3 separate regions of the Homo sapiens genome follow, and all the other regions are linked to region 1. The links come from fine-mapping of genetic effects on gene expression. A gene starts in region 1. Each other region holds a variant in brackets. All regions are shown on one strand. Distances are from middle to middle.

Region 1 (5,944 bases):
TGCAGGCTAAGCATTAGAAAGGATAACAGGATCAACTGGGAGCTTACCTCCCAGGATAAGAGAAATGTTTGTCACATAAAGGCAAAATGAAAGGAGCCAAAGAGGGAAAGCTACATTTGGAAACCAGATCATTAAGGAAATAGAAACTTTAACCAAATTAAAAAACTTTCTTCACAACCTTGAGGCCCTTGCTAAAAGGTGATTTTTTATTAAAAAGGCAATGAAACCAGAAACTTCTGGACAAGTGAATCACAGAAGAAGCTCAATTTCCTGTTTGACAAAAGAGGAAAAAAAAGAGAGGCACTAGAGCCACTGCAGAGACACAGACCTGAAGACATAATTTTACTAGAATGCAGTTCCCATCTTGTAGCCTTTAAGATGAACTTTTAAACGGTTGTGACTGCATTTTGCAATTCTGTACCTTGGGCACTTGCATGTAAACTCGTTACTTCCTTGGTAAACCGGATGATGTTAAAGTAAAAGTGAGTCCCAGATGAGATTAAATTATCATTCTAGTCCCTAAAACATGAGAGAAGTACAAATTTAACAGAAGTATAGCTTTTTAGAACTTGAAAGGATTTAAGTCATCTAACCCAAGATATTAAATAACCTGTCCATGGTCAGGACGCTATTTTGTGGCACAAAACCAACATCACAAAATACCACAAATTTCGCCCATCATCAAGTGATTTTTTTCAAATAATCTTTTTCAGTCTGGGAGAAGAACTTTAGAAAAGTTTCTGGAAGGTCCCAACTTCAATTACAGGAAAACATCAAGCAGGCGTGAGATTGAAATTATAACAATGTTCTCACTTTCAGTTTGACTTAAGGAACTCTAGAGCTGGAAATAGCAGCAGAAATAAAAGGGAAGCAAAACAGGTTAGAGTGTCAGCGTACAAAGCCAGAAAAAGAGTAAGGTATAATGAAAGCAGATCCGTAAATTTTTACCCATTTTGGGAAAACAAAGTGGTCCATTTGTATTACACAAGACAAAAATATATAGGAGACTGCTTTGCATATTGTTTAAGAAAAACCAGTTTTGCTTTAAGACTAAACTACTGTGCCGTACACATACAGGATGAGTCAACATCCTATCACAATGAAGTCACAAAACCTACTCAACTCAGATTTTTCACTGAGTTAGTGTATTACGTCACATTTCATCTTGGCTATTTAACTTTTATTTCTAAAAATCTCCCCATCTCACGGAAGACCTGACAAGCCAAAGCTGGTCCCTTATGCAAACAGGTGGTCTATACTGCGTGCCCCATCTTCTCGGCCACATGACCGGATTCCTCCTAATCTCACTTCTGAAACATTGTTTCCGGTGCCCCAGATGGCTCTACACGTGCCTGAGGTAGCCACTCCCGAAATATAAAGAGCTCTCTGTCACATCTGGCTTCCAACCGGATGATGGCAGAAACCAAGGGAGGGCAGGCAGAGCGGAAACGAGCCAGGAAAAGCGACAAGTCAGGAAGGTAAAGGCTCTGCTGAACGCCCAACTCCTAAATGTCACTCGGTGGAGATGTTCGTGCAGCATCGCCCACGAATGGCTGGGGCGGGCGGCCAGGCGCTGCAGCCGCAAGCCAGGGAGCTGAGCACGCAGCGCGGGCAGGGGAGCGGCCTCTCTGGCGCTGGGGACGCCAGGCGAGCCCATCAGGCCCCACCGCGGCCCCACCAGGGCGACCCCCGCCGGGGGCGGAGAAGGGAAGTGGGTGCCTGGCGGAGGGTTGCGGGCGGGGAAGGCGCGGGCGGGGCCGGGCCTAATCACATGGCGCAGACGGCGCAGGCCGCCCGGCACCTCTTTCTTTCTCTTTTCTAGACCCTCGGCTCCTATCCCGCCCCACCGCAGGGCCCCACACAGCCTGAGCCCGGGCCCCGAAAGGAACGAGGCCTCCTGCGCCTCGCGGAGACACTCACTTTTCACCTGAGGCCACCAGCTCTTTGCCCTCGCTGTTGCCAAACGCGTCCGTCTCCCCGGGGCCGTCCTTGGGGCCGGGCGCCGCCGGGGCAGCGGGTGGCGACACCCCGGGCTGCGGATGCGTGCTCCCCTTGCCCAGCTCCTGCAAGATCTCCGAAGGAGAGCTGGACAGGCCCCGCGCGAGGGGCTCCGCCGGCCAGCCGCCCCCGCCCCACCACGGGTGGAGTCGCGCGGCGGCAGCCGGGCCCGCGGCCGGCCGTCCCCCGCCTCGGGGACGCCGGCACAGGGTGACCAAGGGCTGTGCCCGCCGCAGAGTCGCGCTCACGCCGGCGGGCGACCGCAGGAGCAGGTCCCGCAGCATCCCCGAGCCTCGCAGCCGCATCATGCCGCCGGGTCCGTCAGCGCCCGCTCAACAGGGGAGGATGCTCCGGGCGTGGGCGGCCGGTTTCCTCGGGGAACGCGGTCTGTGGTGGGGCGGTGAGATGACAGAAGAGGAAAGGGCAGCTACTTGGGTGTGGTTCCGGCTCGGACTCCCGCAGCGGATGCGGGTGCTGCTGCTGCTGCTGCTGCTGCTGCTGCTGCTGCTGCTGCTGCTGCGCGCTAGGATTGCCGCGACCGGTTCTCTTCGCTCCGCCTAAGGCTCCGCACTGAGGCTAAAGCGCAGGGGAGGGCTAGAGACCTTCAGCGCTCGCCGACGGCCCGCCCCTTTCGCCCGCTGCGATTGGCTCAAATCCTCGACCTCTCTTTTGATTGGCGATTAGGGCAGTCAAATTTCTCTCGGCTCTGGGTGCGCGGAGAGTAGGGCGGGGGATTGGTGGGGGGCGGGGAGAGGAGTCAAACTGACGTGTGAAGCGGGTGAGCCAGGCCCGGCTGCTCAGTAGCCACTTTCTGCACGCCGTGCCAACTCCGAGGCTAGCCTAGTTGGGTACTAGGGGCTCTGGGTTCTCGCATTTATGAAGCAGTGGGCTCCTCCACTCTGGGAATTCGAGCTGTTGGGGAGACTCATGGGCGAGATCCCCCGCAGCCGAGGGCAGTGAGGTCAGCAGGTTTGGCAGGGCTGAGTCTGGCCGAGCTGTCGGAACTCAGCCGATCCCAGCTCGCATCTGGCCCCCAGGTCAGGGCGTCTGGCGACTCCTCCGAGAGCAGCCCCGGACAAGCTTCATCCCTCTCCCAAATGTAACATTTGCTTGAAACTTTCCATGATTGGCTACTACCCAGACGTGAAGTGTTTTGGAAAAAATGAGCAAAATCCTTTCAGCTATGCGACTTAAGCCATGGGAGGGTGGAGGTGGAGGGAGGGCGACGAGTGGCGAGGCGGGGTGGGGGGGTTGCGGAATCCAGAATACGACAGCTTTCTTTTTTAAAAATTATTTTTTTTAAATGTACACCGATACTTCAAAAATAGTTTTGAATAGCAATGATTCCGTTAACGCTATTTGCTTGAAAGCAAAACTGTAGATACTTTTCTATTTTAAAAACTGCTTCACTGTTTTAAAATAGAAGCGTTGGAATACGGGTTCTCTAAGTTATTTCAGCATCACTTTATCCATTTATCCTTTTGGACCTGTGGAAAAACAGCCAAGAACCTGATAAACTGAGTTATTCCCTGAGGCTACATACACATTACATTCCAGGACAAAAAAATGTTTTTAGACTATTTCCTGAAACAATTAGGTTTAAATGGAGTAGATCCACAGAGTTTAATAAGATGTTTTGGGGGTTGGTGTGTTGTTACTGTGTTGTTGTGTGTGTTCGTTTTGAGAAAGGGTCTCACTCTGTCGCCCAGGCTGAAGTGCAGTGGCGCGATCACGGCTTACTGCAGCCTTGAACTCAGGGGCCCCGGTGATCCTCCCACCTCAGCCAGCACCTGCTTTTTTTTTTTTTTTTTTTTGTATTTTTGGTAGAGACGGGGTTTCGCCAGGTTGCCCAGGCTGGTTTCGAGGGATCTGCACCCCCTGGGCCTCCCAAATTGCTGGGATTACAGGCGTGAGCCACCACGCCCGGCCTAATGAGGTGATTTTTATGAAACTAGAAGGGTGTATGTCAGGTGCATCATTAATTGATAACCGGATTTAGTAATCTAGTGAACTGTAAAATATTTCAATAGATTAATAATTAGGAAATCTGGCTGTACCTACAGGTTATGTGACCTTTGGCATGTTACAGCCTTGCCGTGTTTTAAGTTTTTTTTTTCTATCTGCTCTTTAACCAGAAGAACATGGAAAAAACTATCATGTGTAAAACATAGTCACCTTTTTTATTTAAAAAAAAAAAAGCAGGACAATGGGAAAGTACTTAGATAGCTTTTATTACTAATGTTACTTGTCCAAAAATGTTGATGAATCAAAGTAATGATATATTCAGGAATAGAGACATCAAGTTTCAGAGGAAAGGTAACAAATATTACCCCTGCCTAACCCTGACTTGTTAATGACTTGCAGACTTTAATATTGTCCAATATATTAGCTGCAATTAGTTATCAATTTTAACTGCCTCTTTTTTCTCAACAACACAAAGCAACTGACAATCCAGTTACTGTTTTCCTCTCAGTTTCTCCCTTAATTTCTCTGAGTTTCTTATGAAAATTGTTTTAGATATTTAAAGGTTTAAAGGCTTTATAGTTCACTTAACAAATAAGAAAGCTAACCTAGTAACAGATTATTTTCTAGAGTTTCTAGTTTCTAGAGTTTTATTTTCTGGTAGTTTCCAGACTTTCTGCTTTTGGTGAGAATGGATAGATATTACTCCCAAAATTTGGAAGAATTGAGTCCACTGAAATTTAACCCCTTGTTTGAGAAGGCTAATGAAAAGGTTATAGACAGCAAAGAAACTATTATAAATAGAATAAAAATGTGACTCAATACTTTCATTTGATTCTTTTCTTCATCTTATATAATTTTTTAATCTTTAAAGATATTTTTATCTACAACTTTGTAACCATTACACAACTTTGAAGTTTCAGTTATGTTAAATTGAATTATATCATTACATAAACTCATGTAATCATCATGTAAAAAGTATAAAAACATTTGTATACATACAATAAGTAGTCCACCAAAATATCTACAAATAGAAAAATGCTCTCCACATTAACTATGGTTGGGTTGTCAGATCTACTCTTCGACTTCCTTTTTGCTCCTAAGTGCAGCTACACTACAAAGAGTTGCTGTCCCATAGCCATCATCAGGTAATCAGCCATCAAAAGGAATAATTGGAATTTGTGCACTTTGTGTCTGTTCTAACTTGAAGAAAGGTTCCTGTGCTTCTATGTTCCTGAGCTTCTTTGTTCTGTCGAAGATTACAAAAGGCTAATGTTTCAAGATCATAATAAAATCCATATATAGGCCGGGCGCGGTGGACTCACACCTGTAATCCCAGCACTTTGGGAGGCTGAGGCGAGCAGATCACAAGGTCAGGAGATTGAGACCATCCTGGCTAACACGGTTAAACCCCATCTCTACTAAAAATACAACGATTAGCTGGGCGTGGTGGCACACACCTGTAATCCCAGCTACTTGGGAGGCTGAGGCAGGAGAATCACTCAAACCTGGGAGGCCGAGGTTACAGTGAGCCAAGATCGCACCACTGCACTCCAGCCTGGCAACAGAGCGATACTACATCTCAAAAAATAAAATAAAATAAGATAAAATAATATATATATATAGAAATTCCAGATTGCGCCTTCACAAAAACTAGTAGATTATTTGTTGACCTAGAACTAAAAAGAAAGTAATTTTCCTTTGACTAACAGCTTAAAAGAATTGCCTAAGCCTTTTTTTGAAATTCTTCTGTTTGGAGAATAGAGTAAGGTTCAGGAAGCCTCTAAACAAGCTTCTGCTACTACTTCCCTTTCTTCTGTTGGTTTCCTGCTTTAACTGGCCAAATTCCTAGCCTCACTGATAAGCCCTGCCAAACATGGCTTATTTTTCCAATACTGAATATAGATGTGTACCAAAGTAAGTATGGTAAATCCCTCATCTATAAAAAGGGGATAATATGGCCAGGCAAGGTGGCTCACGCCTG
Region 2 (5,944 bases), 89 kb before region 1:
CACCCTCTATACACCACTAAAGCCTCCCATTAAACCCATAGAAGACTTAAAGAGCTAAAAGAGGCTATAATATAAAAAAAAAAAAAGAAAAGAAAAGAAAAAGAGTTCATAATATAGGCACGGCACTGGTTAGACAACGGTTGAATCAGTCTCTAAATTGGGTTGACTTCACAATGGTTTGCTGTCCTGCCCCTTGGCCATGACTTCCATCCAGCATCTACTCTTAGAATCAGAGTGTATACTCTGAAACAGAAGCAGCTCTCCCCAAGCTGGCTGTCTTCTGCCAAGTCTGGAGGTTGCAGCTCTGAAAGAGGGTGGTACCAGGGGCCAACGCCTGGTGCAGCCTCAGGAGCAACAGGACCATAGGCTCCTGAGGAAATTGTCCAAGAGAGCCAGAGCACCAGTGTTCTCTGCAGTATGACTTGGGCATTTGTTTAGTCTGGATTTCCTGTGTAATCAGTGTTTTCCTCTGGGACTGTAATAGAACCAGTCTACTCTCCAAGAGGCCTTTAGCCAAAGCTCATAATGATAGGACTAGCTATTAATTGTCTACTACTTTCTGTCTACTATACTAAACATTTTACGTATGCCATCTAATTTAACAAGCCTATCTGCTAGGTACTATTAATCCCCTTTTGATAGATGAAGACTTTGAGATTTAGAGAGGTTAAGCCACTTGCCCTGGTCACGCAGTGACAGGATCTGAATCTGGGCTTCCTCTCTTCCTCTATCTATCTATCTCCCCCTCCCTCCCTCTCTTTACCCCCACGGTCCACCCTATTAAGCACACATTTGAAACATCAGCCAGGCCGGGCGCGGTGGCTCACGCCTGTAATCTCAACATTTTGGGAGGCCGGGGCAGGTGGATCACCTGCGATCAGGAGTTTGAGACCAGCCTGGCCAACACGGTGAAACCCCATCTCTACTAAAAATACAAAAATTAGCCAGCCATGGTGGTGTGTGCCTGTAATCCCAGCTACTAGGGGGGCTGAGGCAGGAGGATCGCTTGAACCTGGAAGGTGGAGGTTGCAGTGAGCCAAGATGGTGCCACTGCACTCCAGTCTGGGCAACAGAGGAAGACTCCGTCTCCAATTTGAAAAAAAAAAAGAAAGAAAAAGAAAAGAGAAACATAAGCTAGACTGAAACATAGGGGCAACACTTTCACTGTGCTTTTCAATCCAAAATAATTTTCCTAAGAGCCCACTATGTACCACACACTATTGAGCACTTGGGATTAAAAAAAAGTTCTCCAGAGGCTTTCCAGTCTAGTGCCATGTGTCTCAGTCTTGGTGCTACTGGTATTCGGGGCTTCAGAATTATTTGTTGGGGATTGGTGGGGTGGGGAGCTTTCCTGTGCTTCGTAGGAGGTTCAGCAACACCTCTGGCTTCTACCAAATAGATACCAGTAAGCACATGCACCCTCACAGCCAGATGGGACAATCAGCAATGTCTTCAGCCATTGCCAGGGGACAGAATCATCCTCGATTGAAAGCATCTGGTCTAAGGGGAAAGACCAGTGTGGAAGTCAGACAGGAAGTCACTGGCAGGCTAGTATCCTTTGGATGAACAGTTTACTTACTATAAGTTGTCCTGGTCAAGGCAGCTGGGCAGAAGGCACTGGTGGGGAAGGTGAAGGGGTTCTTAGTAATTCTGCTTCTTTAGTCTGTACCTGAAACACAGTCATTGATTTTACCCACTGAGTGGCCTTTAGGGGAAGTGTATCATTTCCCTCTCCTTCCTCTCTCCCTCTGGCATATGGCTCAGCATTTCCTCACCCGTTTCACATGAGCAGATTTGACACGTTGCTCTGTCCCCAGACTTGCATAACAGCAAAAAGCTTTATGCAGTCTGGATGGATTCACAAAATTAAGCCAGTGGGCAGCAGAGTAATAATCCGTCAGCTTAGGTGATATAAAAGGTCTTGATTAGCCCAGGATAATACATAGTACATGCTGAAGGCCCTCTTATTCCACGGTATTTATTTGCCATTGCAAGTATCTTCCTACTACTTCATTCTAGAATAGACAAGCAATGTTTAATGTATGAGTCTGCATTTCACAAGATCAGTGTAATAAACTTAACCACATTTTGTCTTTTTACAGATGAACACAGTATAGAGCATGAATTTTTTTCATCTTCTCTGGCGACAGTTTTCCTTCTCATCTGTGATTCCCTCCTGCTACTCTGTTCCTTCACATCCTGTGTTTCTAGGGAAATGAAAGAAAGGCCAGCAAATTCGCTGCAACCTGTTGATAGCAAGTGAATTTTTCTCTAACTCAGAAACATCAGTTACTCTGAAGGGCATCATGCATCTTACTGAAGGTAAAATTGAAAGGCATTCTCTGAAGAGTGGGTTTCACAAGTGAAAAACATCCAGATACACCCAAAGTATCAGGACGAGAATGAGGGTCCTTTGGGAAAGGAGAAGTTAAGCAACATCTAGCAAATGTTATGCATAAAGTCAGTGCCCAACTGTTATAGGTTGTTGGATAAATCAGTGGTTATTTAGGGAACTGCTTGACGTAGGAACGGTAAATTTCTGTGGGAGAATTCTTACATGTTTTCTTTGCTTTAAGTGTAACTGGCAGTTTTCCATTGGTTTACCTGTGAAATAGTTCAAAGCCAAGTTTATATACAATTATATCAGTCCTCTTTCAAAGGTAGCCATCATGGATCTGGTAGGGGGAAAATGTGTATTTTATTACATCTTTCACATTGGCTATTTAAAGACAAAGACAAATTCTGTTTCTTGAGAAGAGAATATTAGCTTTACTGTTTGTTATGGCTTAATGACACTAGCTAATATCAATAGAAGGATGTACATTTCCAAATTCACAAGTTGTGTTTGATATCCAAAGCTGAATACATTCTGCTTTCATCTTGGTCACATACAATTATTTTTACAGTTCTCCCAAGGGAGTTAGGCTATTCACAACCACTCATTCAAAAGTTGAAATTAACCATAGATGTAGATAAACTCAGAAATTTAATTCATGTTTCTTAAATGGGCTACTTTGTCCTTTTTGTTATTAGGGTGGTATTTAGTCTATTAGCCACAAAATTGGGAAAGGAGTAGAAAAAGCAGTAACTGACAACTTGAATAATACACCAGAGATAATATGAGAATCAGATCATTTCAAAACTCATTTCCTATGTAACTGCATTGAGAACTGCATATGTTTCGCTGATATATGTGTTTTTCACATTTGCGAATGGTTCCATTCTCTCTCCTGTACTTTTTCCAGACACTTTTTTGAGTGGATGATGTTTCGTGAAGTATACTGTATTTTTACCTTTTTCCTTCCTTATCACTGACACAAAAAGTAGATTAAGAGATGGGTTTGACAAGGTTCTTCCCTTTTACATACTGCTGTCTATGTGGCTGTATCTTGTTTTTCCACTACTGCTACCACAACTATATTATCATGCAAATGCTGTATTCTTCTTTGGTGGAGATAAAGATTTCTTGAGTTTTGTTTTAAAATTAAAGCTAAAGTATCTGTATTGCATTAAAT[A/G]TAATATGCACACAGTGCTTTCCGTGGCACTGCATACAATCTGAGGCCTCCTCTCTCAGTTTTTATATAGATGGCGAGAACCTAAGTTTCAGTTGATTTTACAATTGAAATGACTAAAAAACAAAGAAGACAACATTAAAACAATATTGTTTCTAATTGCTGAGGTTTAGCTGTCAGTTCTTTTTGCCCTTTGGGAATTCGGCATGGTTTCATTTTACTGCACTAGCCAAGAGACTTTACTTTTAAGAAGTATTAAAATTCTAAAATTCTATTAATCTCTCATTAATAGTATTTAATATAAAGATTCTTAAAATTACTGACGTTATGAATTGGTTTGATGCTTTTCTCATGTACCTCAATCCTTATTTTAAAATAAGATCAATAACACTATTTTCCTAAATGTTGTCCTTACCTGCCCTACACATATTCAGAATTGCTATGGCAGATTAAGACATGTCAATGGAAGAGGTCAGAGGAGTAATATTATTGGCAACAGCTGTAATAGGTGCCATAAAAAGCAAACAAACAAAAGTATTTTGGTTCTTTGCGACCACAGCTGTCCCCAAATATACAGATGATTCAGCACTTATTTTAAAATGAATCTGGGTATTGCTAATACCCCCAAATTAGCAGTTTTTAATTTTAAAATACATGAGAAATGGGACTTTGTCTTGTCTCCAAAGCAGTCATCTAAAATCTACACCCCCACGATTAGATGAGTTATTACTGAGAAGTTATTGCACCCACAAAAAAGCTGCCATTTTTTTCCAAAGATGTCAAAAGCTAGAAGGCCAGGTCTTCTCAAAGTAAAATACACTGTGTATTGGGGAAAAAAGGGTAAGAGGCATAATTACCAAGTTAGGCATAGTCTGTCAAGTTGTATTTAGCTATTATCATGGAATAGTGTTATTCCCTGATAATGAATGTTGGCATCATAACCAGAATGATTATTCTCATCTCCATATCTTCGTATTTACATCTAGGAAATATAAAGCTTATTTATAGTGAACACTGAGAGTGGTCTCTCTCCAAGGAGTAAAGTAAATATGCCCTGGCTAACTAGTGTAAGTTTGTATTCTACATAATTAACCATTATAAGAAGTCACTGAGTAGATCCTAACTTAAGGGATATTTGTTTGTGTTTGAGTATTTCTCGTGTGGTGTTTCTAAGTTTGAAAAGTGTTTTATAAGCATAGAGCTTATGTGTGCTACTGGGGACAAATGTCTCATTTTAAAGGAAAGAGGGTTTTCTGAGATGGCATGAAATGAGTGAAATCTATTTATTGCCTGAAAGCTAAAGTGGAATATGAAGGCAAGTCTTTCTGAACAGAGCAGTCCTGTCACTGACTAACCCAGGGAAAGGACAGGAAAAAGCTAGAAAGTGTTTTGAAAACTCTTCTGCTTACCTTTTGAATTGGGACATTAACAAAGTAAGGACCATTTATGTGACTGGCTTCCTTTGGTTAGTTATGATTCATTCATTAATTAATTCATCAGATTTATATAGAGCACCTGCCATGAGCCAGGCATTATACTAGATGTTTGGGAAACATTGGTAAACAAAAGCAAAGATCCCTGCTTTTATGGAACTTAAGATATTCTGAGACACTGGATCATACATTCTAGTGCAGTCACCTTATTAAAACTTAAGATTTTGTGATGCAAACAAACAGCCAGAAGCTACAAATAATGTAAATGTTATATTTAAAAAATACAATTTCAAAGAAATGACATTTAAACCAGTTTTAGGAAAGCTGAAGACAATATTGCTTTTAGAGCTTTTTAAGATCAGTTTATATTGCTCTTAAATGATAATCCTCAGCTTCCAAGTTTTTGTGAACTCACTTTGGTTTATGTGTTTGCTACACTCACTGAGAAATTAAACACCTTGCTTGATTTATTGTAAAAAGGAAAAAACAACAGAGCCATACTTAAGCAGTCTTAAACTTATTTATTAACGTTATCTTGAGTCTACAGAGAACAGAAAGCTATCTAAGAGGTAGAAAGCTGTCAAATACCTATTATCAAACTCTGAATTCTCCTATAATATTTCATAAAGCTATTATAACACCTTAATACCTTACTGTCAGTGTCTGTTTGCAGCCTTTCCACATTTCTTCTACATAATTGAAACAGTCTTGATATTCTTTTGCCATTGGGACTGCTTGTCAGACACACTTCATTGCAGCCTTTTATTGGCTATTTGGAAAGGAAGCAAGGGGTACAGTGGGGGCGCACACAGGCCTGGAGTCTGGTTCATTCTCCAGAATAGAAATAAAACCCCCCAGTCTCTGCCTTTAATGCCTTCCATCCAGTTGTTTTGCTGTATCTCATGCCTCCTTTTTAAAAAACTGCCTTAATTTTCTAATCTTTCTCATCCCCAAACACATATAATCTAGTGAATCACATCATTTCCTTGCATAACTATA
Region 3 (5,944 bases), 42 kb before region 1:
CAGGAAGGCTATTCTAAATTGAGTTCTATACCATAGCCCATTGTGCGTAACACGGTCCCTCTCGCTCAACCCCACCCCCTCAATATTGAGAGCTACTCTAACTTACAAGAAAGCCCGACATATGACACTGCAGAAATGAACTAGCACCAGTTAAGCCAGGATAGAGTAGTAACAAAGAAATTACAAGATACCAAGTCAGCTGAGACACTGACACTTTTAAATGCTGAATAAGAGCCCTCTGATTTAAAAAATAAAAAAATAAAAAATAAAGCTTTTCCCAAACAAAATGTAAAAGCTACGAAAAATTTAGAGCCCAGTTTATAATTAAGAGTGCCAATTTCTGGGAGTGTTCATTATTTTTGACAATTCTTAAATATGTTTACAGAAAAAATTGTCCCCATTACATTTTGAGGCATGAATTTTTAGGCAACATGCATGGACATGAGACTGCCTTTTATGAAGACATTTTTGAAAGTCAATGGAAAATGTATTTTCTCATGGCCTAGAACCAAGATTTCTGAGACATCTATATTTTGCATAATGTGACACATCCATTTATTTATTTTGAGACGGAGTCTCACTGTGTCGCCAGGCTGGAATGCAGTGGCGTGATCTCGGCTCACTGCAACCTCGGCCTTCCAGGTTCAAGGGATTCTCCTGCCTCAGCCTCACAAGTAACTGGGACTACAGGCACACACTACCACACCCGAATAATTTTTGTATTTTTAGTAGAGATGGGGTTTCACCATGTTGGCCAGGATGACCTCTATCTCTTGACCTCATGATCCACCTGCCCTGGCCTCCCAAAGTGCTGGGATTACAGGCGTGAGCCACCGTGCCCAGCCGACACATCCATTTATATATACGATTTACATAATTAGATTACCTGGAAGTAGAAGTCTAATATACCAACCATGTCTGTGCCTTCTGGAAAACACTAAAAAAACCAGAAAGGCAATTAAAAATTCAGGCACACAGGAATGCACATAAGTAGAGAAATATATGAAAAATTTCAAATGTACACAAGTGTTTCATTTTAATTAATAAAATAGCATGTAACTTCTAAAAGAGTATAAACATGAAATAAAAAAGCAAAATTTTATCACATCATGTAAGTTTCTAGATACTAGTTTAACTGACAATGATAAAATGATTCATGATTTATAAATCAAGTTACTAGACCAGCCACTTAAAAAAATCAAGAGTAGTTAACAGTAATCAGGCATCATGCTTTTGAAAAAATAGACTAAACCTCAAACAAAATTTGTATTAATAAATAATATGAGTCAAATATTTAAATGCTGCCAGATACAAATCAAATTAACAATAACATTAACAATTTGATAACACTGACTCACGAGCACTCTGCAAAAACTTCTGCACCTTAAATAGTAATAGGTAGTTGCTTAAAGGCTATTGTTGAATTCTTAGCATACATCTTCATGTATTTTATTAAATGAAAGAATAATTTGAAATAGAAACAAAAATTTAAAAACCTTCTTTTCTTTTAAGTAATATCCTATTGCAAAATTTCGATCTCCACTTTCTCTTTCAGACTGAAACCTGGAAGAAGAAAAAAAAACATTTGCTCTATGTACTTTCTTTAAAAGTGTGATTGTTCATAATTTCATTTGCATAGCAATGTACAGCATAAAGAACACTGAACTAAGATTCAGGACTACAGAGTTCCAATCAATTCTGTCAATAGGCTATTTGTGTGACTTTGGACAAGTCATTTAAGTGGTAATTCTTTCAATCTTCATTTTCTTGGCTATAAAATGACTGAAACGAATTCAGGTCCTTTCTAGTCTTCATATTTTGTAAACAAAAATGCTAATTTTAAAATTCTCAAATCTTCTACCATTAAAATACACTGAAAAACTGCAGAATCCTCTGGCTACCCAAAAGTACAATAAGAGTCCATTTTAATTGACATAATCAGGGAACTTGACATAATCATGGAACTTTCACTGAGAGTGGGAAACACAAAATGGATCTTGCAGGACTCAATGGACTAATAGATTTCAGGGTGAGGCCTAGGCACTGGCAAATTCCATGCATCATGAACGGGTTAGAAAAGTATATAGACAGGGCTCCACTGAAGAATGGCAAATATTCTGATGTAACTGGGGAATGGCACATGGAGAGGAGTGGGAAAACATCAAACAAACAAAGGAGACTGGGACCAAATTATCAAAACCAATAGATGCCAAATAATTAATAGCTCCTGACTACCCACAAAACAAAAGCCTGAGGGCTTACAAAGAAGTTACCTAATCAGATCTGCATTTTGGAAAGATAACTCTGACATCAGTTTGAAAAAGGGGAAAAAGAAGTGATGACTGATCTATTAAGAGAATACTGTAATGAGAGCTACAAAAGCCTGAATTTAGGCAGCTGTGATAGGAATGGAAGGAGAGGTATGA[T/A]CAAATATGCAAGTAGTTGGATAATCTTCCAACCTGATGAGAAAAAGGAGAGGCAGAGTAAAGACTGATACAAAGCCTGAATTTCTAACATAGCCTGAGAGGATAATAATATTAACTGATACAGGGATCTATCTCTAGAGCAAAGAGCAGTTTGGAAAGAAAGAGAATGAGTTTTGATTTAGACAGATTTAATTTGCGGTATATTTGAGAATTGCCCTACAAGTCTAAAAGGGCTGCTGATATTAGAGGAACTGTGGTTAATGTTCTTTATATCACTGAGGTGGACAGCCCCTTCTAATTGCACATTTTAACATTTCAAATTCTTATCAATTTGCCGTACTTTTAAAAAAAACATCAACATAGTTTAGATAAATGACTAACTAGTCAGCAGTTATCACAGTGACTGACACATAGTTCTTCAACACTATCTCAAGTGCCTATTATCTGCCAGATAACAGGGATACAGAAATGAACTGGAAGACACAACATTCCATCTAGGTCTTAAGGAGGGCAGAGTCTAATGGTGGTTATGGGGCAAAGAGAGACATGTAATAAGTTTGATAAAATATGGTAACAGAAGAGCACAGAAAAGAGGCAAGTTGAGATTCATGGAATACTTCCTGGAAAAGATACTTAAGCTGATGAATTAATGTTGGGAAGCCATGCAACCTGAAAATGTTTACCCCTGAAATGCGAAGCAGGAAGTGCAAAATAAGAATAAAATAGTAGTATACATGCTAAAACTGTTTAACATAATAATATTACGATAACGTTTAACATTATAGTGTTTCTAATGACAAGGAACCAGACAAATACAAAATGGGAAACATCCACTATACGGCCTGCTGCCTGTTTTTATAAAGTTTTTTATAACACACCCTCATATTGTCTATGGCTGTTTTCTACTAAACAGCAGAACTGAGAAGTTACAACACAGACCGTATGGTACACAAGCTTAAAATATTTACTGTCTGGTCCTTCAAAGAAAAAGTCAGCAACCCCTGGTCTATAAAACAAGCAGCCTGCACTCTTTAAAAATAAAAGCCATTTAATAAAATTTGTGAAAGCAAGGGCACGGGGACTGTTCTAAGTAAAGAGACAAAACAGACATCGTAATAAATACAATGTAAGAACCTTGATTTGTTCCTGAATCTAAAAAATAATAATAAAAGTTGTAAAAGACATTTGGGGAAGAGATGGGGACATTTACATATTGATTAATGTCATGATATTTTAAAATTAACGTTAACGTTCTTACATGTGTTAATGGTATTGTGGTTATGTAGGAGAATGTCCTTATTCTTAGACTGTATGTGCTTTCTTATCTAAGGGTGAAGTATGATGCCTGCAACTTAATTTGAAATGGTTTAGGGAAAAAAAATCTATGTACATATATATTTACATATTTGTGTTTAGAGGTATACATACATATTTTTTATCTATCTAAAGAGACAGAGATTGAGAAAAAGCAAGTAAGACAAAATATTAGAAAATATAAGTAAAAGATTCCAGATATTTATTTTTTCAACTTTTCTATAGACTCACAAATTTTAAAATAAAAAATTGGGGTAAAAATCCAGATAGCCTGGAACAGAAATAGAAGAGAGGTAAGACAGGTATTACAAGCAAAGATAAAACTGAATAAGCACCAGTAATTTGAGATAAACTTGGGGTCTCTTCTGATTGTATGATTACCTGTAAGAAATTTGTCAAAACTATTTAAAGTATTTTTAAGTGTTTCTGTCAGGTAATTTAGAAATCATTCATTTCCCTCCAATGAAAAGAGAGTGGATCAATTCTAAATACAGTTGTGTGTTTTTACGTAACAAAACAGTATTTAAAACACTCACGTTGCATTACTGAATCCAACATATTCATTACCAGCCATCTTATTCAAAAACTGCATGACCTAGAAACCAAAAGTAGGGAATATTAGTAATCAAAAAACAAATATATAGAGAATGTGGCATGAAAACTGAATGACATGTTGCACTTACATAGTCAAATTTTTCAGCATTATTTACTCCTTGCTGCAAAAAAATAAGAGACATAAATACGTTAATATAGGTACCACTACAGTTAAGTTTCAAGCCAATATCAAAATTTCAAAGCTACTATTATAATATACTGCATTAGTATTTTTAAATCTAGGAAATAGTTCTAAAGTAATTTAACATTTATATAAACTTTTTTTCATGTTATTTAATACCCATATGTTGAGAATGCATTAGAATTACAAAGGGAATGCTTTATTTTAAGTATATCTTTACCCAACCCAAAGTTACAGAATTTTAAATACAAGTTACCATGAATTCCCTTATCTTTCATGACAGCACATAATTTGCTAAAATGTGTTATTTATTTAATCTTATATTTAAAAAAACTTAAAATAAAGTTTCACCCTTCGAAAAGAATTAAGTATATATAAAATATTTCAATTAAGAACAATCTACTTATATTTTATTAAATCCTTAAACTAATATCAGAGTTAGAAAAATGAATTATGTTGCAAAACTAATCTTTTAATTCCAGTATATGCAAACATTCTGGTTGCATTTTACTACTGCAGAGAAAGCTCTATTCTTAATAGCTCTCACTTGCTATAATATACTTGAACTAAAAAAAATTATATTTCACAGTCTCTAAAAAATTAGCTTCTGTTGTATTTAGCATTATGCCAATTCAGAATATGGAAGATGTATTGTTTCATCACTTTCATTTCTGACATGTTATCTACTGCAAATGTCAATAGGAAAAATCTATGTAATGTAGATCAGTTCAAGTAGCCAAATGGTTTCATTTTACCTCGGCGAAGTTTACAAAGCAGTAAGTTGTAGATCTGAAATCAAACGTATTAATTGGTGATATGCACCCAAAAGAAACAATACATCTCTAATTTCTAAAATAGGCTTAAAATAAAATAATTTGACAACTAAAGTTTTTAAAACATATTTTCTTTTACTTTACCCTCAAAAAACCCAAAACATTGTACTTTAAAATATTATGGGAGGAAAACCTGTACCAGAGAATTATTTAATTGAATAAAGCCAGGTTCATTCTTTACAAGAGGATTAGAGTGTGGCTGACAATATGTGAAAACCTACAAATCCACTTTTTTAAGAAAGATGTGCAATCACATATATACAATCAGTAGCTGGAAGGAACACCATACTATTTCATCAAAATTAGGCACTAACAAAACTTCAACAAGATTAAGGATAATTTAATTACAGCCATATTGTAATCACTATCTATGTATTTTCTCTAAAGTATCCTTTGACATAATTTTTTCTTTCCTTATAATATACCAGAAATCAAAATGTAGAAATGTAACTCCAAAGCTGTTCAATGAAAAATAATTAAAAGAAGAAATTACCAACTTCATTGAACTGTTGCAGTTGTCAAAATATTCCATAGATCCTAATGCTGTAAAATATGTAACAACATTTAAACCACAAAAACCTTTGTAACCTTAGAAAAAGCACAAAAAAACAACTCTTTTGGAAATGGATGTCAGC

The links. PIP is the estimated chance that this variant, and not a neighbour inherited with it, causes the effect.
Region 2: its variant is the best candidate, but not a certain one, in a credible set for the expression of GLS in skeletal muscle (GTEx, PIP 0.68).
Region 3: its variant is the best candidate, but not a certain one, in a credible set for the expression of GLS in whole blood (INTERVAL, PIP 0.80).

Annotation. Positions count from the first base shown.
Region 1 is chr2:190,877,447-190,883,390 of GRCh38, reverse strand. GLS (glutaminase) reads right to left here and starts at 2,570. Exons shown (of 18, transcript NM_014905.5): 1 at 1,921-2,570. The coding sequence starts at 2,306. It overlaps LOC124906110 (a long non-coding RNA gene), which reads left to right and starts at 1,403. Exons shown (of 2, transcript XR_007087791.1): 1 at 1,403-1,478; 2 at 1,823-5,944. RefSeq lists enhancers at 1,093-1,282, 447-1,646, 3,043-3,182 and silencers at 1,603-1,912, 1,973-2,062, 2,113-2,172, 2,513-2,772.
Region 2 is chr2:190,966,876-190,972,819 of GRCh38, reverse strand. STAT1 (signal transducer and activator of transcription 1) reads left to right here. Exons shown (of 25, transcript NM_007315.4): 25 at 2,103-3,671. The coding sequence ends at 2,117. Among named protein-coding and RNA genes, the nearest start is that of STAT1, 44 kb to the left of the region's middle. The variant A/G (reference allele first, on the strand shown) is at 3,516.
Region 3 is chr2:190,919,536-190,925,479 of GRCh38, reverse strand. It overlaps GLS (glutaminase), which reads right to left. Exons shown (of 18, transcript NM_014905.5): 8 at 4,424-4,456; 9 at 4,277-4,335; 10 at 1,497-1,563; 11 at 887-937. Among named protein-coding and RNA genes, the nearest start is that of GLS, 42 kb to the right of the region's middle. The variant T/A (reference allele first, on the strand shown) is at 2,427.